Linked DNA regions of Homo sapiens: region 2 is linked to region 1. The links come from fine-mapping of genetic effects on gene expression. A gene starts in region 1. The other region holds a variant in brackets. All regions are shown on one strand. Distances are from middle to middle.

Region 1 (9,956 bases):
TCAGTGCTAGCTGAGCATATTTCCTGTGTGGGACTAGGGATACGTCCTGAAAACCAGGCATGGTAGATGCCGTTGGAGAGGATGCCCTGTCCGATTTCTTTACCAGCAGGCACACCTATCCCCAGCATATATTTGGTGCAGCAGCTAAAGGCTTACAGCTGATACATTCCTGGAGCATTGTCCTTGGCCACAGGGAGCCACCTTGGAGGTTATACCACCATATACCACCACCCAGCTCCAGTGGAGGCAGTGACTTACTGGCACCCGGGTCAGCAGTTGGTCCTGGTGCTTCAAGTCACGGCAAATCTATGGTGTGGTTTCTGTTCCAGGATCCCCGAGGATCACATGAAGGTTAGGCTTGACCTCAGTCACAGCTTGCTCTAGTCTTGCGCCTTACCTATCCTGCTTCCCTCACTCCTTCATAGGTTTTTCCTGAAGAACACTCGCTAGCTAATTTTGTGCCCCTAAGGCACTATGTTCACCTAACATCCAGATGTGTTCTTTTTTTTTTTTTTGAGATAGAGTCTCGTTCTGTTGCCCAGGCTGCAGTGCAGTGGTGTGATCTCAGCTCACTGCAACCTCTGCCTCCCAGTTCAAGTGATTCTCCTGCTTCAGCCACCCGTGTAGCTGGGACTACATGTGCACGCCACCATGTCTGGCTAATTTTTGTATTTTTTAGCAAAGATGGGGTTTCACCATGTTGGCCAGGCTGGGTTCGAACTCCTGACTTCAAATGATCTGCCCGCCTCGGCCTCCCAAAGTGTTGGGATTACAGACATGAGCCACCGCACCTGGCCCCAGATGTGTTATCTCTTAGTGGCCTTGGCTGAGAGTGTATCTTTGGTGTCTGCTGCAGTCAATGGTAACTTCTATTGGAGTACTTGCCTCCAAGTACTCTTTTTCTCCAAGCCTCCAACACAGCGTTCTTGAGTGTGCTTCCCAAGCCCACTTCACAACTCTGTAACCAGAAAGAGCATTTCTGTTTCAAGAACAAATTAAGGCTGATGCCTGAATTGATATTCCTTGTCTCTAAGGGTAAAACCTAAACACACCCCAACACCACCATCATCAATAGTTCCTTTCCTGATCTTCAATGTGTATCTCTCACGTGAATGTTGTACTGTGTGCTTGTTGGGTTGAGGTCAACAGGCAAAGCTGGGAGCAGGCAAAGCTGGGAGCGCGGGCAGGAATCTCTGAAATTCATCTAGGAAGAAGCAGGTCCTGAGACAGGTAGTGAAAGCCAGGAAGCCAAGAAGTTGGATCTTAGGGAGGAAATGGAACTCAGTTTCCTCGACCCTTCAGAGTCTAAATGCATTGCCATTGTCCCCAGGTGGTGGGTGTTCTCACAGGGAGGAAGTCCAGGAAGTAGGCAGGGAGGGGCCTGAACCTCCCCAGATAGTGATTGGGTAGGTGGCTACACTCAACAGCCAAATCAGCCAGATTAGCTGCTTTGGGGTTTATTCATTCCTGTTCTTCCCAATTCCTGATCTCCCACCACACCATGCCTTTGGCAATGTCTTATTTAAACATTTGGGCCAAGCCTCAGGTGAGGAAGTAAGGATGGGAGGGAAGTGTGGGTGAGTGACTGAGGGAAGGGGTGAGGGAAGAGGTGACTGAGGGGTGGTGAGGCCATGATTCTGCGCATAACATCTGTGAAGTCCAGCCAGCACCCCCAGTGGAGGCTGTCCTCTGCAGCTCTTTGTTGTCCTAACTTACAGTACCTTGGCCACTCACACAGGTTTGCTTGACCTGCTAGGGTTAACTGGAAGGCAAAAGTTCTATAAAGGTATTGGTGATGTTTTCTCTACTACTTTTCGCTACTGGAACACCTGCTCTTTGAGGGGGCTGGCCTCCTGCTAGATGGAACCTGTGGGAGAGAAAGGCTCAGTCCTGGTCTTAGTACTTGGTGTGGGGCACTCCTTGGAGGCTGGCTCAGGAGTCAGATTGCCCAAGGGAGATGAGACAGGAAGTCCTGCTGAGCCATTAATACCTTAAAACAGAGCAGTGCATCTCAAATGTTCCCAGCAAAGTCCCCCAACTCCAGAGGCATTCTCAGTGACTTCTTGAGTTGCAGACACCGGGAGCTCTGCTTAATGCAGCCACCACTGCACAAGCATAATATTTCTTTGAATTCTCCATTTCATCTTGCATATTCATGTGACTTTTTTGCATTTGACTCCATGATATGGTGGGGCTAGTTTTAGAATATGAACGATGAGGAGTGGTATCGTCTAGTTGCTAAGAACATGAGGTATTTAAACCTTTCCACTTCAGTTTCCTCATTTGCAAAATGGGAATAAAAATAATATCTACCCCATAGGCTGTTGTGATGATGGGATGACTCGGTATAAGCAAAGTATCTGGAACAGTGCCTGCCACATCCTAAGTGTTTTGAATGTTAATGTGGCTATTCCTTTACTGATACTCTGATATGAGAAGCACGAAAAATCAATTCTCATTATTTGCAGATTCCTTATTGTGAATTCAGCTACTGGGTAAAATTTATTTGTCACCTCCGTTAAATTAAGTTTAGCCTAAAGTTGCCTTCTTACATATTTTAAGTTCGGCCTAAAGGTCTCTCTGTACATAGTAAACTGTAACCTGATGATGTGTAAACAGACTGTAACCTACTCTTGAAGCAGTCACAGAGTTTTGGCCAATCACAGGCGGTCAACTGTTTAAACCATGTTTAAATAAGGCAAATGCCGAGCTGTAACCAATCCAGCTGTTTCTGTACCTCATTTCCGTTTTCTGTTCATCATATTCCGTTTTCTATCCATAAATATTATCTGACTATGTGGAAGCCCCAGAGTTGCTCTGAATCTATTTTGTTTTGGGGCTGAGGGGGGCTGCCCTATTTTCAAATTGTTCTTTGCTCAATTAACCTCTGTTAAATTTGTCTAAAGTTTTTATTTTAACACCTCATAATCAATAGCTGCAGCACTTTCAAAGTCATTGAACCAGTGCTGAACGTTTTGAGTCTCTTGAGACACATGTTGGAAGCTAAGGTCCAACCAGTCAACCCTCTGTCTTCTTGTTTCAGCTTTCACACTGTAAATGAGTGGCCCAAAAGTTCTCTTCATTGCCATGTTTTCACATTTTTTTGGTCTTTTTTTTGATGATTTTGCTGCTTAAAGCACCCCCCAGGCACAGTGCTGAAGTGAAGTCTAGCGTTCCTAAGTGGAAGAAGGCTGGGATGTGTGTTGCAGAGAAAATACGTAAGTTAGATAAGCTTCATTCAGGCATGAGTTACAGCACTGTAGGCTGTGAGCTCAGTGTTCAGGAATCAACAATAGATGTTAAGTAAGGCGTCTTTAAACAGAAACATGCATAAAATAAGGCAATGTGTTGATTGATTGACAAAAATATTGTGAGCTTGCAGGAACCCAACTCTATATTTCCCCTAGGAACAATGGCTCCATATTCACAAATTCGTTGTTCTGTGACTTTATAGACCACAACTACAGTAAATAAAAAGGATCGATTGTCCATAGATGAGTTAGTTCTAGTTTAGCCCAGCCCTCCCTACCCTTCACTGGCTACTCTTACCTCTCCTGTCTCCACACTGACCTGTCCTCTGCTCACTTGCCACAAGTCCAATCATTTTACATAGAGTGGAGAGACAGCCTTGAAGATCCTCTTCTTGGTCAGAGGAAGTCACCAGAGTAAGTAAGGGAAGAATGAGTGAGGAAAGCAGGCAGGGCCAATTGCTCTTGGCAAAGCTCTAGCAGTAACCGGAACGCAGCAACCACAGAGAAGGCAGGAGAACAACTTTAGGGGTGAACAGTCCAGGCTCTAGAGAGAGGCAGATAGGGGTTCCAGTCCTGGCTTCTCCACTCATGGTGGGCAAGTTATCCTCCCAGCCTCAGATTTATCCTAGGTGAAATGGGATAATGCTCGAACTACTGCTGCTGTGAAGATCAGATAGACACAAAGAGCTTGGTACTCGACAGACACCCAAGGAAATGGCGACTGTGGTAGGACTTAGGTGGGGGCATAATGCAGCCTTTAAGATCAATCTCCTGGCCCTTGGCTTATCCTGCTGGGACTAGGACAAGGACAGGGACAAACATTTCCTTTTACTTCTCCTCACCTCCAGAAGTACACAGGCAACTCACCCCAGTCTCTTGTCCGCGACACTCTTCCCCCCAACCCCAAATCCCAGGCCTGGACACGGCATGATTCTGGCACCTGTGGAGCTCTCAGTTCCCCAAGCCCGGCTCAGACAAGGAGGCGCCAGGTACCCAGTTAAGAGGCGCTCCTGCAAGATCCTCGTGGTCCCTGGCTGCCAAAGGTCCCAGGCCTCTGGGCAGTGAGCGCTCCACAGTCCCTTGTGTGGCGTCTATGCTGCGCGGAGGAGGCGCAGGCCAGGAGAGGGCCATTGGTCTCCACTATGGTCCTGCCTGGCCAGGAGTGCCTATGGCTCTTAGGCACGAGCCAGCGGTTCCGGGCAAACCTCTGTGTGGCTGCTGGGCCTGACTTTGCAGAGCTGGCGCCCGGGTCTGGGCGGGGTGGGTGGAGGCTATGGGAGGTGGGGCCGGGGGTGGGCTCGGGGGGAGCGACGGCATCCCTGCTCCGGCTCCGGCTGAGGCGGGGCGGCCAGGCTGGCTTGCGGCGCAGCGGCCGCCTTTCCCCAGTGCGCCTGCCGGCGGCGGCGGTGGCGGCGTCGGCAATCCCGGCTCTTGGCACAACGCCTGGCGGCCGGCCCAGGGCGAGGAGTGGCTTCCAGGAAGCGGGCGGAGGAGCGTTCCAGCCGAGTCCCGCCGTCGCCGCGGCCCCGCGCGCTCCGAGCGGCCCGGGCCTGGCCCCACACGGCGTCTCTTCGCGCCCCCGGCGCCTCCAGCTCAAGCCGAGGGCGCGGTGCCGGCGCGCAGGCTGACGGGCGCCTGGGCGCGCCGTGCACTTGCCGGGCGGTGCAGGTGGCGGCGCGCGCCCTCCGCCTCTGGGCCGGGGCCAGCGCAGCGCTCTGCGCGCCCGGAGGGGGCGGGAGAGGCGGGGCAGCCCCCGTCCCAGCCCCATTTAACTTCGCGGCGGCGGCGGCGACTGCGGCGCCGCGGGCTGGAGGCCGGCGTCGGGGAAGGTCCTGGTGCCGGATTCCGCACGAGGTGTTGACGGGCGGCTTCTGCCAACTTCTCCCCAGCGCGCGCCGAGCCCGCGCGGCCCCGGGGCTGCACGTCCCAGATACTTCTGCGGCGCAAGGTGGGTGCACCGAGCTCGGCGCAGGGCGGCCCCTCAGGGGTCGGGGGAAGGCGCTCCCCAGAGGGAGTAAGACTTGGAGCAGTGGCCTCTCTAAGCAAGTTGGGGGTCTCCAAGCAGAGTCGGGGCGTGCCACGCGGGCCCCAGGGGGCCTCAGGACTGGGGTGCTCCTCACTGCTGGGCACCTCGGGTCGGGCGCGCTTCGTGCCGTCCCGGAAGGTTCAGGGAGAGTCTTTCGGCGGCAGTTCGCGGGCTGAGGGGCGTTCTTGATTATGGGGGAACTCCACAGGGTTGGAGTTTTTCAGGATTGGGAGTTACTAAGCAGAAACCTCGCGGGTCCGAAGGTCCGGCCGGTTGACCACTGGGTAGCGAGCGCCCAGAACGCCGGGGGTTGAGGCGACGCGCGATCGTGGAAAGTGGGCGTGGGGGTGACCGGGACGCGGCGGAGGCACTGGAGGAGCGACTTCGAGGCAGCGGGTAGTCGGAGGAGTGTGCACTCGGAAGGCTGGTGCGAGCAGGCGAGGGTGGCGCAGAGTCCCAGGGCCCCGCACTGGCCGCCTCCCTTCAGCCAGGAGTCGCCGCCTCAGGTCGGAAACAGCAGCACATTTGCGGATCACATTAGACCAGGCCCTTAATGCCTTCTCCAGATGGAGAGAAGCCACCGACCCGCCCCCGGACACCAGCTCCGCCAAGGCGCCCGCGAGGCGAAGCGGGAGTCGAGTGTGACCTCGGCTTTTCCAGTCTCGACTCATACTGATTTCCCTGTAAATTGACAGGAAAAGTAAGGGAAAAAGTCCCCGCTTCCCTCCTGGTTTCAGCTGACCTCTGCTGGCTGGCCCTCACCTACTTTTAGGAGATTGTGTTAGGCTGGCTCAGGGGCTGTGTCCTCCAAACCTCCCTGAACTTAGCTCTCAGGCGTCTCTCTGGGTGTGGGTCCCGGACCTCGAGGGCGCACGGTGTCATCTAGCGAGGAAAGCCTTGAACTATCAGAAGATCTGCGTTTCAGCCCTAAAATGTCACTATCTTGCTGTGTGACCTTAGGCAGGTCCTTTCCCTCTCTGGGCGGCTTTGTTGTCTTAGACTCATTTTTGCCGCGAGCAGCAGAAGCTAGCCTAAACCTTGGCTCTGTGCTGGCTTCCTGAGTCAAATGCCAATAGCGACACCCTGCTGCTGACAGATAGGCTTGGGCAGGGATATCTCAGCTTCTGAAGAGCTGGAGGTATGAGATGCCCACTGGAGACAGGTCCAGCCCTCGCCTGACTTTGTTGTGGACCTTCTAAAGGGAGCCCAGTTAGCCTGCACCCTGCAGTAGGCAGCGGCAACCTGGGCCAACACAAACCTTTCCAAAATAGTATATGGGCTTCAGGGTCCCTCCATCTAATGGGTCGCTTAAGTCACGGTTTACTGCCATGGGGGCCAGAGCTGGTTGGTAATGAACTCTTTCCTCGTTTGTAGGCTACAACTGAGACCCGGAGGAGACTAGACCCCATGGCTTCCTGGACGAGCCCCTGGTGGGTGCTGATAGGGATGGTCTTCATGCACTCTCCCCTCCCGCAGGTAAGGTCATATAGGGAGGGGAAGGGAAATGGTGGACATCCCTCTGTTTACTCAGAGGCATTATTGTATACCACCTAAGATGTGGCATGATTAGTGTTAATCCTACACCAGAGAACCAGACTTTCTTTCCTATCTCTAGCCAATGGTATTTCTGGTTGGCTTAGCTGTAAGGATTATCCAGATCCCTTGGGTCCTCTCTGAATCCTGAGTAGGGCTTTAATAGCACTGTGGATACCATACACCGGTGATGACCTGGGGCTGTGATGGACCCTGTCATTTCAGACTAGAATGGCTGTCTGCATGTGCCCAGCAGAGGCTGGGTTGCTGGAGACCAGGAAACAATGGGCAGAGCCAGGTTCTGGCCCTAGCTAAGCTGCTAAATAAATATTCTGAGTTTACATCTATCATCACATATCCCACTGTTTTATCCCACAGTCCTCTCTTTAGACTTCTGCTGTCTTTTCCAACCAACTTGAGAGGACCCGGCTCATGAATTGCATCTTTATTTGCCTAAAGGACAGACTCAAACAAAGGAATGAGGCTAGCATTGCCTAAGAGACAATAGAGAGTAACGGAGACAGTGGCAAAGTGCAGAACGCGTGCTCCATCTATTAAGAGCAGTCTCTACTCAATTCCATCTGATCGTTGCTAAGTGGAGACATAAGCCCAGGATTGCCAGATCTTATTTTTCAAGATAGCTGGATCATCTAGACTTCTTACAAAATTTCCCAGTTTTTAAAGTATTGAAAGGCAGATAAATGTGTTTGCAGCCTGGATTCAGCCAAGCAGTTTGCAGCCCCAGATCTAAAGGCAGGGCACATCTTAGTATTGTGTCCCAAGGGCTGCTGCTAGCTCCATACAGTGTCTTATGAATTAGAACAAGGCAATCCCTCCCTGCAGACATAGCTTCTCAAATACATGGCTTGGTGGCCTGTGTACCCTCAGGGTCTCGGAAGGGACTTGTCACTTAAGGGCTTAAATGTCTGTTAAATAAACATGCATCCATGAATGAAGATATATACCCTGGGATAAATTAATCAGACTCCTCTGCCTCTTGTTTCACTTTCTTGGACTTAGTGCCTCTAAAGCCTCTTTTGGCTCCAATGCCCTGTGAATTCTGTGATGCACAAAGAACTGGTCAGCAAGGTACATCTTCTCCCCACTATCCCATTTTATCGATACTATCCCATAATCATATTAATAGAGCTCTTTTGTTAGAACAAAAGTTAAGTCTTTTCAGGATGATGTTAGGGTTCTCTGGCCAGCGAGATGACTGTTGAGGTAAAAGCGTGGAGACTTACGTTTCTGTCTCATCAGCGGATCTGAAACAGGCTTTGAGAGCTTCAGAGATTTGTTCCTGGTCAAATGGGGCTGAGGCTTCAAGGCACAGTGTTCATTTTGCCTTCTTTCACCTTATAAAATTTAAATATGCTTTGAGGCAGTCTGTTGACCTTTGGCCAAGGGCAGTGTTTGCCCAGCTTGAATCACTCACTGACCTCTTTTGGATTTTTCCATATCTGTGTGCCTGTGGCAGTGCTGTTTCCATGTATCCAGGCAGTGTGCATAGAAGGTCATAAAAGGAGATTTCAGACCAGCAGTCTTCATCATTCACGCCACTCACTGTTCGGATCCCAGCTCTACCACTTCATTACTGTGTCACGCAAACGTCTCTGCATCGCATCTCAGTTTTCACATCTATACAGAGGAGATAATATTAGTATAGACCTCAGAATTGTTTGGAAGAGTTAATCCATTGTGAAGTGGAAAAAAGTGAAAAACCAAACCAAACAATGTCTGGCACATAGTAAGTGTACAATAAATGTCAGCATTCTGCTGTTGCTGCTGCTTGTCAGCATTAGAAGCTTGAAGCAAGCGCAGTGCCTGTATTTTCTGGTGTAGAGCCTGTAGGGGGCACTCAAGAGGTATCAGCTGTGGAGGGCCTGATCTTCAGGGAGTGTGGGTGGGCATGGCTAGGTCTGTCTCACCAGAGGCCCTGAGAAAAGGTTCTAATGAAGGGTGGTAGGTCAGCCCTGTGTCCCTGTCCGTGGGTTGGATGCTCTGTTTTTTCCGTAGGGTCAGCCTGGGTTTGACTCAAGGCCGCCCTTTCTGAAGTATCTTGTGATTTTGGTGTTTGGGTGGGGCTTAAGGTGTTCCCTGGCGTCTACCCTTGCTTCGTATGTGCTGCCACCAAGGTGGTTGTTAGAAAACTGCTAGATGTGTGAGGCTGAGCTGTGAGGAGCAAGGGATGTGCCAACTAATTAATAACAAATAGAGTTTCCTTTCTTTTCTTTTCTTTTGAGACATGGTTTCACACTGTTGCTCAGGCTAGAATGCAGTGGCATGATCTCAGCTCACTGCAACCTCTGCTTGCTGGGTTCAAGCAATTCTCGTGTCTCAGCCTCTGAGTAGCTGGGACTACAGGCGCACACTACCACATCCAGCTAATTTTTGTATTATCGGTAGAGATGAGGTTTTGCCATGTTGGCCAGGCTGGTCTCGAACTCCTGACCTCAAGTGATCTGCCCACCTCGGCCTCCTAAAGTGCTGGGATTACAGATGTGAGCCACTGCGCCCGTCCACAAATATATTTTCTTTATTGAATCAGCTAAAATGTAAACTCTTATATTCACTGCCCACAAATAATTGTGAGAGATTGTAGAACAAGGTAAGAGGCTGGTAGTTCCTTGTTTTTGTAACTCGTTCTTGACCATTCCTCGAGGAGCTCACTGTTCCCCTCATCCAGGCAGCTGGAGCGGCCTCCCCTCTTCCTGTCTCACAGGCCCTGGAAGCTTCCTGTTGCTCCAGGCTTCTCCTTAGGGATCTGATTTTCCCAGAGAAGACAGCAGCTGCTGTTCCTACTCTCTCTTCCAGCCTGGAGTATTTGAAAGCTTTTCAAACTTTATCCAGCCTGGAGTATTTGAGAGCTTTCCAAACTTTATCTAGCCTGGAGTATTTGAGAGCTTTCCAAACTTTATCCTGAACACCTTGAAGATGAGTCCTGTGTTGACTGTGCCCTGAATTACAACGTGCCCCCCCTTTTTTTTCTCTTGCCCATGAGAAGAATAAACAGCCTTATCTGTTCACTAATTTAATTGTCATAGGATGGCTTCCTAGCTCTCTGGCCAAGTGCCTTTAGAAACTGTTTTAACATTGGTCATGTGGCTTGCGATTATCTCTTTAAACAACCATGTCAAGATGGCTTC
Region 2 (9,956 bases), 52 kb after region 1:
GTGGGTGATAGTGTGATGGTAGCAAGTCCATTGGGTCATCATATCCCAGCCATATTCCCCTAAAGAGGGTGTCCTTTCTGACCCCCTCAGACTCCAACCATTGTGATTTATGTCCAGTGATTCAGATGCCAGGTAATATGGTTTGATTCTGTGTCCCCACCCAAATCTCATCTTCAATTGTGCTCTCATAATTCCCACATGCTGTGGGAGAGACCCGGTGGGAGATAATTTGAATCATGGGGGAGGTATCCCCCATACTGTTCTCATGGCAGTGAATAAGTCTCACAAGATCTGATGGCTTTATCAATGGTTTCCACTTTGCATCCCTTCATTTTCTCTTGCCACCATCATGTAAGAAGTGCCTTTTGCCTCCTGCCATGATTCTGAGGCCTCCCCAGCCATGTCGAACTGTAAGTCCAATTAAACCTCTTTTTCTTCCCAGTCTCGAGTATGTCATTACCAGCAGCATGAAATTGGACTAATTCAGTAAATTGGCACCAGTGGAATCGGGTGCTGCTGAAAAGATACCTGAAAATGTAGAAGCAACTTTGGAACTGGGTAACAAGCAGAGGTTGGAACAGTTTGGAGGGCTCAGAAGAAGACAGGAAAATGTGGGAAAGTTTGGAACTCCGGAGAGACTTGTTGATTGCCTTTACCAAAATGCTGATAATGATATGAATGAAAAGGTCCAGGCTGAGGTGGTCTCAGATAGAGATGAGGAACTTCTTGGGAACTGGAGCAAAGGTGACTCTTGTTATGTTTTGGCAAAGAGACTGGTGGCATTTTGCCCCTGCCCTAGAGATTTGTGGAACTTTGAACTTGAGAGAGAAGATTTAGGGTACCCGGTGGAAGAAATTTCTAAGCAGCAAAGCATTCAAGAGATGACTTGGATACTGTTAAAGGCATTCAGTTTAAAAAGGGAAACAGAACATAAAAGTTCAGAAAATTTGCAGCCTGACTATGCAATAGAAAAGAAAAACCCATTTTCTGGGGAAAAATTCAAGCTGGCTGCAGAAATTTCCATAAGTAGTAAGGAGCCTAATGCTAATTCCCAGAACTATGGGGAAAATGTCTCCAGGGCATGTCAGAGACCTTCATGGCAGCCCCTCCCATTACAGGCCTGGAGGCCCAAGAGGAAAAAGTGGTTTTGCGGGCTGGGCCCTGGGTCCCTTGGCTGTGTGCATCCTAGGGACCTGGTGCCCTGTGTCCCAGCTGCTCCAGCTATGGCTGAAAGGGGCCAATGTAGAGCTCGGGCTGTGGCTTCAGAGGGTGGAAGCCCCAAGTCTTGGCATCTTCCTTGTGATGTTGAGCCTGCAACAGAAGTCAAGAATTGAGGTTTGGGAACCTCTGCCCAGATTTCAGAGGTTGTATGGAAACACCTGGATGCCCAGGCAAAAGTTTGCTGCAGGGGCGGGGCCCTCATGAAGAACCTGTGCAATAGCAGTACGGAAGGGAAATGTGGGGTCGGAGCCCCCATACAGAGTTCCTACTGGGGCACTGCCTAGTGGAGCTGTGAGAAGAGGGCTACTGTCCTCCAGACCCCAGAATGGTAGATCCACTGACAGCTTGGACCATGTTCCTCGAAGAGCCACAGACATTCAACGCCTGCCTGTGAAAACAGCTGGGAGAGAGGCCATACCCTGAAAAGCCACAAGGGTGGAGTTGCCCAAGACCATGAGAACCCACCTCTTGCCTCAGCGTGACCTGGACATGAGACCTGGAGTGAAAGGAGATCATTTTGGAGCTTTAAAATTTGACCGCCCCACTAGATTTTGGACTTGCATGTGCCCTGTAACTCCTTTGTTTTGGCCAATTTCTCCCATTTGGAATGGCTGTGTTTATCCAATACCTATACCCTCATTGTATCTAGGAAGTAACTAGCTTGCTTTTGAATTTACAGGCTTATAGGCAGAAGTGACTTGCCTTGTCTCAAATGAGACTTTGGACTGTGGACTTTTTGGTTAATGCTGAAATTAGTTAAGACTTTGGGGGACTGTTGGGAAGGCATGATTGGTTTTGAAATGTGAGGACATGAGATTTGGAGGGGCCAGGGGTGGAGTGATATGGTTTGGCTCTGTGTCCCCACTCAAATCTCATCTTGAATTGTACTCCTATAATTCCCATGTGTTGTGGGAGGGACCCGGTGGGAGATAATTTGAATCATAGGGACAGTTTCCCCCATACTGTTCTCGTGATAGTGAATAAGTCTCACGAGATCTGATGGTTTTATCAGGGGTTTCCGCTTTTGCATCCCTCTCACTTTCTCTTGTGGCCGTCATGTCGGAAGTGCCTTTCACCTCCTGCCATGATACTGAGGCCTCCCCAGCCACGTGGAACTCTAAGTCCAATTAAACCTCTTTTTCTTCCCAGTCTCGGGTATGTAGTTATCAGCAGCATGAAAACGGACTGGGGTATGAGCTTTCCATGAACTAAACACAGTCTACAATATGCATGTTTATTTAAGCTTGGATTTTTAAACAAAGCATTATGAAGAAAAAGTCTCAAAGGAAATACACCAAAACAATTAACAGTGGTTATTACAGGTTGAAAAGATTATGGGTGATTTTATTTTCTTCTGTGCTCATTTATATGTTCTAAAGTTTCTACAATGAAGTGCATTTTTGTTGTAGTATGGGAGAAAATTTTTGTTTCTCACTCCTTTGCCAAAAAAAAAAAAAAACACAAAAGGAAGAAGAAAAGAAAATCCTAAAAACAATAGATTTGCAACAACAAGACAAAGTTAACTACTCTGTGACTGAATTGCTGGAAGATGGGGAGCAGAGGTAGCGGGGAGGGGGAGAGAGGCAGGTGTCAGAGAATAAATGCCATGGCTGCCAGTTTGATTCGGGCCACTGTGATATCCTGGCCTAACAGTGCCCTGACACACCTGGTGTGCCTCACCCTGGTCTTTGCCAAGAGAGGTCACTTCCCTTTTTGTTTCTTGGTACAGCTATTAATGGTGGATTCTCCTGGAATGGCCTTCTTGGACTTTACCTGTCAGGGGGTCCTTACTGGAGCCTTATTTGTGACCAAATGATCTTGTTTTTCAGACCACAGCTGAGAAATCTCCTGGAGCCTATTTCCTTCCCGAGTTTGCACTTTCTCCTCAGGGAAGTTTTCTGGAAGACACAACAGGGGAGCAGTTCCTCACTTATCGCTATGATGACCAGGTAAGAACATTGGACAAGGATCTACCTTTGGCTTTGCTGTTTGCCAGTGGTCAGGAAACTGTCTCTAAAAGACCTTCAAAGTAATTATATTTTCCTCTTTGCAATACAAGTACAACAGACCCTTGACACCCTTGAAGGATCCCAGAATATGTGGATTGCCCATGTTTGCATGTAATTTCCTATATAATGTGCAGTTCTTTCTCTGCATTTGCATAAAAGTCACTTTTTCTTATTTTCATCAGAAATATATGATGGATTTGTTCATCTCAGCTATCACCACATTGATGATTCAATTCTGAAATTATCCAAAATTCTGTTTTCTGCTTATGTGTTACTTCTTTGCCCTCAGCTTTTACTTCATTTCTTTTACCAGCACCAATGTTGCATGCTTTTTTCCCCAAGATTACTTTTCAGAAAGGAACACAGTGTGAATGCCTGTGTGTGCATATGTCTGTGAGTGTGTGTGTGTGTGTGTGTGTGTGTGTGTGTGTTGAAATCATTTTAGGAAGGCTAACTAGAGAAGAAGGCCTTGCTTGGCTGACATGTGTAAGCTGAGCACTGGAAGTTGTGATTCCCTTCCATCCTCAATTCACCTTGATGCCATAATAGCATTTAAGATTATCCATCTTTGAAATCACTCACAACTTGGTGAAACAGAGAGTTTCAACTTTGCCTAATGCAAAGCTGGTAAAGCCTGAATTTATGGGGCAGTTGAGCAAACCAGGGTGGACTTTAAGATGATGTAGGGCCTGGGTGGATCTGGCAGACCTCAGCACCTGTAGGGCCCAAGTGAAGGTGAGGAGCTGGGGCAAGATCACCTTCCCATGGTACGTGATAGAGTGGAGGGAGATGGCCCAGTGACTGAGGCCAGCTGTGCTCTCCTCAGCTGTATAGCCAAAGGCCAGTGCATCCTGGTTTGATTTAGGTAAAGCCTAGTCAGAGTGCAAAAGACAGTACTCAAAAGGAACAGCTCTGAGAAATTCAGTCTGCCAACATGGGTAGATCCAAGATGTGACCACAGGGAGTAGGACCCTGTTCTGAGGGCTGGCTGGAGCTAGGCAGAGTGCTGGAGGTGGGCTGGGAGAAGGATGAAAGTCTTGCAGAGCATCAGTGGCTGATGCAGGACGGAGATTAGAGCATAGAGGGCAGGTAGAGGAGTCTGTTGCTCAGTCCTCTATCTCCCAGCTCAGGGGAAGACACTGCACACTCTCCATCCTTGAGGCTGCTGCTCAGTGACCTACCCTTGGTGGGCTTCATTCCAGAGCTGGGACTGGGGTGAAGGTCAGGGCTGTGACCCTCCAGACCGCTGTGGGCAGGGAGCCACACTGGTCATTGGGGCAAGAGTGGGATGAGACCAATTTCTTACTCAAAATGTCAACATTCAATCATATTTTCAAGTTACTTTAAAAGTGAGTGAGTGCATTACTAGTCATTGTGGGGAGCAGGGGTGGGCTGGGGAATAATTCTATATTTGCATTGTAGAGCCCAAACATTTGGGCCTGGTTGCTAATAGGGGCTAAAACATCATTAAGTCACTTTCTGCCTTCCCCCTTCCCTTGATGGATTTTGAGAGGGTCTATAATTTATAGCTCCTTTTAATCCAGAAATCAATAATCCAACAGGTTTTCATATGAGAACTTCAGAGGAACTAATTGAGAGGGCCGTAAAGGATAAAAGCGGGTGTCTGGAAAATACCAAGCTATGCATTTTATAATTAAAGAGTGGTTAATGTCTTCTCCAGGTTCCACAGATACTTTATATTTAACATAATAACAATATAAAAGCTGGGAAAAGGGGAAAACAAGCCCCTTCAGTCTTTTCAAAAGGTCTAAAGCAGATCTGAAAAGTGTGTGGCATGCTGTGGAAATTTCATCCTAGGACATAGT[G/A]TTCCAGAAAGCCTCAGTGACTAGCATATGAAAACACTCTGTGTTGCCCCCACTGTGTATTTCTTTTAGGAGAAAGGAATAATTTGAGACTATAACAAGCCAATAATAGCACCCACTTTCCTCTACTAAAGGCACAGAAAATAGGCGCTTGGACTAAACTAGGTTTATCTATTGAATGAACCTCAGGAATTTAATCAGCTAGAGACTGTTAACCCACCAACCAAATCCTGATTCTCTTTCCTCTTTTTTCTTTTCTTTTTTTTTGAGATTGGGTCTTGTTCTGTCACCCAGGCTGAAGTGCAGTGGCATGATCACAGCTCACTGCAGCCTCAACCTCCCCACCCACACTTAGGTGATCCTCCTGCCTCAGCCCCCGCCCCCCACCCCAGGTAGCTGGGATTATAGGCATTAGGCATGTACCACCACCCCTGGATAATTTTTTTTGTCTGTATTTTGTAGAAATGAGGTTTTGCTATGTTGACCAGGTTGGCCTCAAACTCCTGGGCTCAAGCGATCTGCTCTCCTCGGCCTCCCAAAGCGTTGGGATTACAGGTGTGAGCCACTGCGCCTGGCCAATCCTCTTTTTTCTTAATGCTGAACATGCTTCTCAGGCACTGGGGAAAGGATAAAACCAATCAAATACTATCAAACTTTTAAAAAATCCCCTGATCCTTCAGCATATGACAAAACATTAAGATCAATTAAGAACAAAGTCTCTGGAGTCAGACTGCTTTGGGTTTGAATTTGATTTGTCAGTTCTGCCATTTGATTTGCTGTTTTACTTTGGACAAGTTACTTTACTTCCCTGTCCCTTAATTTTCTCATCTATGAAATGGAGATTTGGATGGTATCTACCTTATGTAGGCGTTAATTCATGTCTCCCTGCATAGGGCCTGGTACATATAAGCATTTAATTTAGCTATTGTTATTACTAAGAATGTTGTTTGCAAACACTCAATTCAAAGAATCTCAGATATGCTTATGCTAAAAGAAAGGAAGAAGTTAATTCTTACTTTAGGAGATCTCATGCAATATTTTCAATTAATTTTTTATTGAGCTATAACATATGTAAGTAAAACGCATACATATCTGAAGTATAGAGCTTGATGAATTTTTAAGTATTTTTACACCTGTGTAGTTGCTACCTAGATCAAGAAAATGAACATTTCTAGCACCCTAGGAGGCTCCTTGAACCTCTTTCCGATCAATATCCCACATTCAAGAAGTAACCACCATTCAGACTTTTATCAGTATTACAGATTCATTTTGCCTGCTTTTAATTTTATTTTTGATTTTATATAAATGGAATCATACACCACATACTCGTTTGTGTCTGGCTTCTTTCACACATCATTATGTCTGAGAGATTCAACCCAGTTGCTGGATCCAACATAATATAGGGTTTAATGTCTAGCAGCCAGTTGTACTCTTTGGAACAAATTGTCTCATGTTGGAACAAATTGCAGCATACTGGGTGGCATGCAGCATTACTCTTGCACAGAAATTCCCAGGTTGTCCCTAAAAGGTTTTCAGAGCAGTCTCTCCAAAGATTTCATACCTGGGGAAATGGTGGGGACAGTTTTCCAGTGTAGCCTTTGTTATATGCCAGCAGCCACCGGCATTCCACAGCCAGAAGTAGGTACAGGGTCTGTGTGAGTGGCTGCCAGGGCAGAACCTGTGTCAGGTGGCATGGGTACCTACCTGTGGAATCTCCATATATATATGCCAGGGGTGCTGTCCTGCTGTCACAGTGGCTTGAAGCCAGAGTGACAAAGTACTTATGCAATTGAGGCTGCAGCCTAGTTTCTAATGCTGTTGGGTCAGATGTGGGTTCACTAGGATCTTCCTACCTATAGAGTACTCATTTGATAAAATGGGATGCAAATGGATGGTGTGTAGATATTTGCTGTCTTGGATGAACCTCACAGGACTTTTTAAAGTGTTTTATCCTGGGCGCATTTCATGAAGACCTTCAGGTCATTCTTCAAATGTCTCCTGGGTTAGATGCCTGGAAAACTAATAACCCTGAGGCCAGTAACACATAGCTGTGATGTAGGCTGCATTTAATGGGAGGCGTAAAAGCCACATTATGGATCATACGGAGGGCCGCGGCAGCTTCTAGTGAAGAAAGTGGTCTGAAGCCAACTGAGTAACAATGTGGTTTAGTGCAAACAGGACTAGTCAGGCAGCCTGGTCTTGCTTCTACCACTAATCAGCTTATAATCTAACAGAACTATTTAACGTTTTGGACTTTGGATTCTTTATTTCTTTTAAAAAACAAAGTGACTGGATTTCATGATCTGAACTCTTTCCACTCTAAAATAGTCTGAAACTACAAATAGAATATTCCACGTTGCAGAGTGTTAATTGGATCATTCTGATTATTGAGGCAGTCTTGCCAGCAATTCGGTAAACTATTACTTAGAGAATTATACAGTTTTACAGCTGGTGGAGACTTTGGCCCAAGTGCCTCATTCTACAAGTCAAGAAAACAGAGACGCCAAATGTGCAAATGACTTACTCAAGGACACCCGTGGTTATTTGAAAAACTAAGACCATTACACTCCAAACCCAAGGCTCTCCTGCTCTGAGATATATCCAGGAGCTTCTCTCAGAAGAACCACCTAGAAAATTATCTCCTATCCTAAAAATCCTGATTCCACTGTTTACAGTTAGTAGAGCTTTGGGGATCTTAATAGACCCCAGAGATTAAGATTAAGATTAATGGATGCCTTATCAGCTCATTCTCATCTCCTTCAGGAATTTGGAATTAGCTATGTGGAGAACATTCATAAGCATATTTATTCCTTTCCAGTTTTTAATAGAAGCCACAATTTTTTTTTGAAGCTTGAGTGAAACATTAACTGAAATTAAAATGGCACTGACTTTCTATTGGATGGGCACATTCTTAGAATAAAGGTGTTCTAGCACTTGGTTGCATCAGGTACATGAAGTAGCTAGAATGTATTAGTTTGGGACGACTGGCTAAGAAGGCTGTGGTTTCAGTTACTAGCCAGCCTGTCTCTGGGGTAGATTCTTTGGTCATTCCTCATAGTGGTTTTGGAGTTTTGTCCCATAGAGGACCTGTTCATAGGCAAACAGCTGGATATTGGTCACTGCACATGGTTCTTTTCATCGCTGAGTAAGTCAGTTTTTGGAGATCTGCTCTGTCTTTCTCTGCCTAGATCACCTTCTGGGAAAGGGGGATGGTGTGGTTGTTTTCCATCCTTACCTTGCTTCAACTCACTGAAGATTTAAACTTGGAGCTTTATTATGGTCACTGAAAGCCTGTGACAAGCACAGTGTTTCTCAGTTAGAGGTCATTTATTTTTTAAGGAGTTAGGAAAAGTTGTTTTTTGCATAAATATTCTTTTATTTCTCTTTATTTTTAGCATTTGTTAGGCATGGGGGAAGGTGGAAGGTGTGTCCTCCCAGACTTGGTGGATTTGCTGTAATGTGCTTCCTCCTCACTGGCAGCCATCGTAGGATAAAGGACATTAAGCACGAGCAGTAGGTGACTTAGAAATTGGGCCTCATGCACACTTTCCTATGTTTTATGAATTCTTTATGTGTGTACCTGTTAATATTAATATAGGGTATTAAAATAATGCTGACCTTGCCACTTTTAGTCTACTAGGCACCAAAAGGCAGGAAAAAAGGTTAATACCTTGGATTCCAAGCATGTAGGACAAGTAGTGGGTTTTGATTTTCCTAAAATTAACCAAGGATAATCCCACTAATGCAAGCTCGAAGCCATTTAGAGAACTACCTTGATCTCATGTTGGAGAGGTCCTTTTATACCTATTCATACCAGGCCATCCCTTCTCCCTGGTAAACTTCCTGCTCCTCTGCCCTTGACTAATTTAGCGTTTGCTGTGTCTCTTCCTGACCACATTTAAGAGGATTTGAGATTTTTTTCCAGACTTAAAAATGCTTTTGCCTGTACTCTCATCTACCATTGCTTTCAGTGACCACTTGGTTTTCAAATTCTTACTGTCTCTTGCTGCTTTCTGCTACTCATTCTGCTACTCATTTTTAACCTTTAAAATCTAACTTCTTCTATGTCCTCCAACCTCCCTCCCCCCACCACCTTCAACAGGCATCCTTTTTAAGAATTTCAGTTACTTTCTTCAAGTCACACCTATATTCTGGTATGAATCAGCCTATATTTGTAAAAGTCTGTGTTGGTACAATTCCATGTTTGTAAAGTCCTAAGGCCTTAATGACATCATAGGTGAAGTCATAGTTGACTCTTCTCTTTCCTTCCTGGGATGTCATTGGCTGCCTATTTGTATGATTCCTTGTTTCAATATGCCTCTCTAAATTGTATTTTCTTTACTGTTTCCATCCCAAAGGAGGCAGAGGGCTGGATGTGCAGCCTTGGTAGCATCTGGAATTGTATTAATAGCATGTCAGAGTTGAAAGAAAGTATAGGATTCTGGCTTTTCAGGTGAGGAATCTGAGCCCCGGAGAGGAACAGTGTCTTGTCCAAGATCACACAGCCAGGCAGTAGCAAAGCCAAGTGCCCGTTCTTTGCCCTTAAGCTCAGTTAAGACATTTTTACATCTAATCTGTGGGCAGGAAAAGTATGAGAGAAATGTTTGAATGAATTTTTAATACTAATAATAACAATAATATATTAATAATGAAGTCTGTGTAGTCTTATTTCTAAACTTCTTTTAAATGCCTTTTTTCTTATACTATTATGATAAACATAATTTTCCTTTTCCTCGTTTAACTATTGATTTATGCATTCTTTCTAAAGAGGAGAAATCTATTTGCTGTGAGTACATCTCTCTCAAAGTAACTTCTTCCGAACTTTTCATGAATATCTTGGCCAGGAGTTTCAATGTGGTTAAACTATTGGCAGCCCTCAGAAATATCACTTGACGTTTCCAAG

Which allele goes with the higher level. Alleles are on the strand shown, and positions count from the first base shown. SD is a standard deviation of normalised expression in the study named.
In carriers of allele G in region 2, the expression in aorta of the gene that starts at base 5,046 in region 1 tends to be higher than with A alone (moderate effect, 0.72 SD a copy in GTEx).

What was found.
Region 2: its variant is fine-mapped to the expression of ADAMTSL3 in aorta (GTEx, PIP above 0.99). The same link has a PIP of 0.9 or more in cerebellum and tibial artery.

The regions. Positions count from the first base shown.
Region 1 is chr15:83,649,078-83,659,033 of GRCh38, forward strand. ADAMTSL3 (ADAMTS like 3) reads left to right here and starts at 5,046. Exons shown (of 30, transcript NM_207517.3): 1 at 5,046-5,199; 2 at 6,652-6,753. The coding sequence starts at 6,685. RefSeq lists an enhancer at 3,515-3,684.
Region 2 is chr15:83,701,339-83,711,294 of GRCh38, forward strand. It overlaps ADAMTSL3 (ADAMTS like 3), which reads left to right. Exons shown (of 30, transcript NM_207517.3): 3 at 3,051-3,170. Among named protein-coding and RNA genes, the nearest start is that of ADAMTSL3, 52 kb to the left of the region's middle. RefSeq lists enhancers at 6,867-7,036, 8,724-8,893. The variant G/A (reference allele first, on the strand shown) is at 5,057.